Homo sapiens: one gene and its partner. The protein of the gene in region 1 purifies or fractionates together with the protein of each later gene. This does not show direct contact. Each region holds a gene or a part of one and is shown on either strand. Other genes may lie near its edges.

Region 1 (3,500 bases):
CTTAGACATTTATATCTTTAACATTTAGGGCAAGTTACTTTATCCCATGGAAATTCAGTTTCATTGTCTTTCAAAGTAGTGCTGTAAGAAGTAAACATGATGCAGCTTTTTTGAATTATAGGGTGGCTGAAATATAGCAGGTGCTCCAATAAGGGAAAACAAACCTAGATTGGAGTGTGGGAAACTAGGTTTATGTGAAAGGGGAAAAAATAGGTGTTGGGGGTAATGATCTAGCACTTGATAATGTGGCCCTCCTAACTAGGTGGCCCCAGGTCTGTGGATGTGTGGCAGATGAAGGCAAGTGGATGAACTGGATGATTTCTTAAGGCTCATTTCAGCTCTGTTTCAGCAGACTGGGAATTTATCAGGAGACTTGGCTAAGAGGCTACTAAGCAAGTAATTTATCTTGGTTCCCATGCACATAAAGCTCAAGATTAAATAGTCCCATCCCAACAGACATAGACATACCAGGCAAGAGCTACAGTAGAGCAATAACAAAGGAAAATAAATAGGCAAGATCAATAAAAGAAGAAATAAAGCACAAAGAGATCAAACAGTTTAATAGACCCATTTTGCAAAGCATAAAGCAAAACCAAATGATGACAGAATTTTATTTTCATAAGCATTAAGCTCACTTTCCAACAACTTAATATAAGGAATGGCCCAGCACTGAGAATAACAAAGAAGACATCAATTTCTAAGAGGCCTCATACTATCATTATCATTTGTTCAAAATGAAAATCCACCTGTCTCAGCACTGGATGCAAGTCTGTTGGCCTTGCTTTTCTAGATGATGTCATAAAGTGAGCAAGTTCATGCAGGTGGTTATTTTAGGCAAAGAGTAGTTTTAATCAGCAAGTTTGTATAAGCGTGGGATGAGGGCTCATTAAAACTCTCACCCAACCAACCTTAAAAGCACTGTAGGCTTTCAGTGGGAGGACTATCATTGGCTTTTCTACCCTGCTTCGCCTTCCCTGCAGTTCCTTCTCAATCTCATACCTCACTTTCCACTAAGAACACAATCAATTCAAAGCAGGCTTCCCTACCCCTTAGCATCATCATTAGCTGTAATGTAGATAAGAACAGGAGAAGCCTGTTCAGGAACTACAGTCAACAGCAAGAGGGAGAGAGCTGGGGAGGTAGAAAAGTGAGGGAAGAAGAGAAAGAACAGTTTCAATTTCTGCTGCACCACATCAGCCTCACCTTGCAGGAGCAGACAGAACACCTGTCTTCTTTCAAGGTCCACACCTGGCCATTGTGCTTCAGCCCCCCTTCATGAGGACAGTCACCAGAGCAGGAGGGCCCAGAGGGGCAGAGACAGTCAAAGCCCCCTGCCAGGTTGATGCAGGCAGAATCGTTCCAACAGGTGTGAGTTCTTAAGGCACATTCATCAATGTCTGCAATATAGGAAGCACAGAAGCTTAGAATCTAGCCAAGGGAACTTAGAGAACAAACAACCATCATTTGCAGTAGCATTAACTAACATCATCGACCATTTACCTTGTGCTAGGTACTGCCAAGCTGTTCACATGTATTATCTCATTTACACTGCAAGTCAGTTCTGCTCTGTGTGGGAGATCTGTCCTTATTCCTATTCTGCAAATAATGAAGCTGAGGTTCATAACTTAAATAACATGACCACTGTCATAGAGCTAGTAAGTGGCTGATCTGAGACCCAAATCTACAGCTAGCTCCCAGACTCTAATTACTAAAATATCCAGTAGCAGTTAGCAAGTTCTTTTAGGATATTCTTAAGAACGATTTCATCCAGAGGCCATAAACACTGTTAATTCATTAACAGTATGCACACACCACCATGGAGATCTGAGTCTTTTAGAAAAGATGTGAATGTATTAGCCACTGAGTAGGAACAAGTGGGCAATTTGGGCAACCTTGAGACAATCAGATTGCTCCTAGATCCTACCACCAAAGTTGAAGGAAGTGGGAACAATTCTTGATAGGTGTCTTTTATAGTCAAAGTCTTACTATCCTTATGGCCAGCAGAATATTTGCCCGTGCATAAAAAATAATTGCTATATGGATGGATGCTGATGAAAGACATAAATATATTGTCCTGCTCTTTATTGACAGCCAACAATGGAATAAAAACATAAATCCAGTCGGCCGATTCTGACATTTAAAGCTTGAGCGACCTTAACAACATCTCAAACACAAACCTGTCCAACCCTGGCTTAAGTCCTTCCCCAAAAGGCAATCCATTACCTTGCAAAATACCTGACTCCACCTTTGGATAACTCTTTTGGAAATGTCTCCCTTAAATTGAGATGAAATATACTACCGAGTAACTTCTACTCATTTGTAGAAGTACTGATACTTAGTGTCTGAGGCCATTGAATAAGTGTCTACTAGTCTACTTGGTTTTGGTTTACCTGCTATGCACAAGTTTCTTTGCACATGGTGCAATACAAAGCAGATGACATTAAGAAATTCTAATAATATTTCTAGAAGTTACTTTTTTCCAAGATCTAATTTTTGGCTTTGTCTTACCAATTTTAGCTTTAGTCAAGACATTTCATTAGTGAACAATGATTTCTCCTTTGAAAATTATAGAAAAGATCCCAAATTATGATGCCTGTATGGTAAGTCAACTAAAATCAAGCCTCACTATATCTCCTCACTGTTACTAGTCATGCCCATCCCATTCTCAGTGTATTTCTATTTGAACATATGGTGCTCCTTTCATATAGCCTCTCTTATCTCTTCAATCTTCTTTCAATTCTCTTATTCTTCTCAACTAAAAGGAGTTTTAAATGTGGGAGTCTGGTGACCAATGTTTGAAACCAAGCTCTTACTTTTTAGTTGAGTGCTTACCATGTATTAGTCATTTTACACGTAACAGTTATATATTCTTTGACATGTTACTTTGTTTTTCTCTCATTTATCTTCTATATACACTATACCCACTCAATGTATGGTCTTCCAAAAATTTTAAACCCAGCATAGCATATAAATGCCATCTAATACTGCAATTGTTATCTCTTGTCCCCTCCCTTTTCATTCAAAAGCAGTGAATACAAAATTTCAGTTAAATAGAAGGAATAAATTCAAGAAGCTCTATTGTCAAACATGATGACTGTAGTTAATAACAAGGTATTGTATGCTTGAAAATTGAGAATATTTTTGTCACAAAAAAGTAAGTGTATAAGGTAATATATATATATATATTATGTAGCTTGATTATTTAGCCATTCCAGAATGTATTCCTATTTCAAAACATCATGTTGTACACCATAAATATATATAAAATGTATTTGTCAACTGATTTTTTTTTAAAAAGCAACGGGAGATCCACAAAGAGGCCATATTGTTTCCTATGAAACAACTGTGTCTTAGAACATGCTTTCTTTTATTATGAGAGTACTCTCTCTCTTTCCCTACTTTTTCTTGTCCTATAGGGAATGAGGTGAGGTATCAATCAATTAATTGATAAGCACTTTCCTTCCTGTACTACTTTCACTCCTACGCAGTCTTAAAAATTC
Region 2 (3,500 bases), on another chromosome or scaffold:
CTGTCACTGAAAAACAGAAATCTTACCCTTGCTGCTCAGTCACACTAAGCAAAATATCAGTAGCCTAGTAAAGTGACCAGGAAAAGACCTATCCTAATATCAGATCTTTCCCATTTTATCATTATCAGTGAACTATTCACATGGAAGAAGTTTGCAATACTTTATAGATACTGACAAATGTGTTTTCTTCTCTTACATATTATTATTTACATATGAGAAAGCTACTACCTACCTAAGCTTAAATTTAAAAACTTGGAGGCCAACATTAATATCCTAGAGCACTTGATTATTCTCGAATGATTAAAACAGTAAAATATCTCTAAAAATTTTCAATTTTGTACACTGAAATTTATTCACCCACTATGTTATGTGAAATAAGTAGGCTGGTTAGTTAAGCAATTCTTGGCTTTAGTAGTCTGTAGGTTCATTATGTTCTTTGTTCTAGGAGCTTTGCAATTTCTAAACAATAAAGCTTAAGAATATTAAAATTACTATAACAATCATTTTTCTGAAAACTCATCATACCAATTCTCATAGTATTTACAAACTTACGAGGATTCAGAAGGTCCATGTCACTACAAGAAGCGTAGTCTTCACTAACTTCATTAAACTCTATAAATTCATCATTCTGGAATAACACAGTTAAATATTTAGAATGAAATAAAAAGAAAAACCCTCTCATTTTATATTCTTAATGCTGAGCATAAAATATAAAGGTAGCATGATAAATGTTTAAATATTTTTAATTTTTTATTAAAGCAATACATATACTGCATATTCCTACATATAAGAAATGTTTTAAATATGGAAGCAGATAGCAAGCTACTTGACTTCACCTTCTAGGAAGGAAAGACAGACCAGAAATTGAAATCCTGAGTAAAAAAAAACAAATTTCTCAGATTTGATAAGGCAATGGTAAATCTGGTAACTATTCTATGAAATTCACAATATGATTGAAGTAAATGAGTGAAAAAAAGATGGGAAGAGTTACCTATATCTTCTGTATCTTTTCTACCCTATGAAAATAGGTTATTTGTACTATTAAAAGATATAAAATAATTTTAAGCTTTTCATATCTATCATATTCTTACCTCATTTTAAATTCTTCAAGCATTATTAACATCTGTAAAAGCTCAACTGACAAGTTTTTCAGATTATCTTATTCAATGAAGAGAGAAACAACAGCCACAACAACATACAGGCTATATTTAAACAGGACTTCATTCTAACTAGACATTTTCTCATTATTCAAATATTCTCATATTTAGCATTTCCAAAAAAATACACATATAACAATCAAAAAAAAACTTTGTTATATCTGAGATATTTTATAAATGTTAAAGGAGGAAAATACCTTTTTAGACAAAAGCATTTCTGTTTCAAGAAGAGTGACACGACTAAGAAGATTAGTCCAGGTGTTTTCATCTACCATCACTTTTCCTTTCATTTTTTGTTCCAAACAGTCTAACCTTTTCTCTATCGAAGTCAGTTTCTTAAGATTTTCTTGGCATTCAGCAAGCATAGTTTGTAGTGCAGTAATCTCAGGATTAACATTTACATCCTAAAAAGGTTAGAGAGATTAAAAATAAAATTAAACAAACTGAAATTTCTTTAAAATTAATGTATTCTCACTTCCACAGCGTTATCTCAACAGTTAGGAGAGACCGTCCTGCTTGAGAGTTAAGAGAGCTATCTCTGGATGGAGACTACTTGGCCACTTAAACCAGTTCTGAGATTTATGATCTTGATGCCTCCATTTCCTCATTAAAAAAAAAGAGATAAGAGCAGTATCTATTTCATATGATTCTTCTGATAATGAGTTAATTTGCATGATTCTCTTAATACCAGCTAGTAAAATAAAACTATTATTAACTAGCTTCTTGAAACAACGCTTAGCACAAAGCTAAGAGGAAATGACCAAAAACAACACTTAGTGCATTGAGATTGTTCGGTTTGCCATATAACAGGAAGTAGGTCCAATGGCCATCTGGTAGTTTTTGTAAGTGCCAACTGTATATTGATATACTGAGATATATAGAAATCACAAGACATAGAAACACAGAAAAAGAAGTCTTAGCAGAAACAGTAGAGATCAGACATATTGGGGTCTGTGGCAATTAAGAGTAATAGAAATGGTTTTTTAAGAGAGACAGAAAATAACAGCAGGGACCCAGAAAGGAAAATGAATAGGCAATAAAGTGCCAATCTTTTCCATTCACCAATAAAGAAAATAGGTGGTAGAGAACCTCCACTATGCAAAGTAGCATATCGCTATGTCTCACTAAATTGTAGATTCCTTAAAGCCAAGTACCATATCTTATTCTACTTTGCATCACCCCAACACTTAGCCCAGCACCCTACACATATGCAGCAAATATTTGTTGAATTATTTTAGTAAGACTTATTGACACTTCAGTAATTGTAACATAGATAAAATGTCATGATTAATAATTCAAAAGGCTAGAAATATTCCAAAGTTTAGAGGCTGAAATAATTACACATATTTAAGTAAAAAATACTGGCATCTATTTAAAAAGTCCAAAGTTGTTACCTGTTGCTCAGCCTTGATTTCAGGAACCTTTACTTCAGGCATCTTTATTTCAGTAGCATTTAAGTCAGACACATCAACTGCTTCATTAACATCTGTTATTGGACTTAATGTATCCTCAGAAATGTCAACATTATCTTCATTATACAAGTGACGAATCACCACAGCTTTCTTCTGCATAGAGAAAAATATGTAAGAAACACTTCAATGTTTTCCTCCCACAATTATTTATTTTTTAACTTTTAAGTTCAGGGGTCCATGTGCAGGTTTGTTACACAAGTAAATGTGTGCCATGGGGGTTTGTTGTGCAGATTATTTCATCACCCAGGTATTAAGCCTAGTACCCATTGGTTATTTTTCCTGAACCTCCTCCTACCCTCCACCCTCTGAAAGGCTCCAATGTGTTTTGTTTCCCTCTATGTGTCCATGTGATCTCATCATTTAGCTCCCACTTACAAGTGAGAACAAGTGGTATTTGGTTTTCTGTTTCTGCATTAATATGCTAAGGATAAGGGCCTCCAGCTCCATCCATGTCTCTGCAAAGGACATGATCCCATTATTTTTTACGGCTACAGAGTATTCCATAGTGTGTATGTACCACATCTTCTTTATCTGCTCTATCATTGATGGGCATTTAGGTTGATTCCATGTCTTTGCTATTGTATTTAGCTTGATTCCATGTCTTTGCTATTGTGAATAGTGCTGCAATGAACATATGCATGCATCTTTACAACAGAACAATTTATATTCCCTTAAGTATATACCAAGTAACGGGACTGCTGGGTCAAATGGTCTTTAGGTCTTTGAGGAATTGCCACACTGTCTTCCACGGTGGTTGAACTAACTTACACTCCCACCAACAGTGTATAAATGTTCCTTTTCTTCCACAAACTCACGAGCATCTGTTATTTTTAGACTTTTTAATAATAGTCATTCTGAGAAGCGTGACATG

What was found. Proteins that work in one complex are often made in the same cells at the same time.
Region 2: the proteins of NELL1 (region 1) and CEP44 purify together in Homo sapiens (affinity purification with mass spectrometry; 2 studies listed by BioGRID and IntAct, with this or other methods). This does not show direct contact.

The regions. Positions count from the first base shown.
Region 1 is NC_000011.10:21,558,086-21,561,585, reverse strand, and holds part of NELL1 (protein kinase C-binding protein NELL1 isoform 1 precursor), read right to left. Parts: intron 1,398-3,500; coding exon 1,204-1,397; intron 1-1,203. UniProt on the Homo sapiens protein: Plays a role in the control of cell growth and differentiation. Promotes osteoblast cell differentiation and terminal mineralization.
Region 2 is NC_000004.12:174,307,911-174,311,410, reverse strand, and holds part of CEP44 (centrosomal protein of 44 kDa), read right to left. Parts: intron 2,723-3,500; coding exon 2,552-2,722; intron 1,562-2,551; coding exon 1,355-1,561; intron 629-1,354; coding exon 553-628; intron 1-552. UniProt on the Homo sapiens protein: Centriole-enriched microtubule-binding protein involved in centriole biogenesis. In collaboration with CEP295 and POC1B, is required for the centriole-to-centrosome conversion by ensuring the formation of bona fide centriole wall.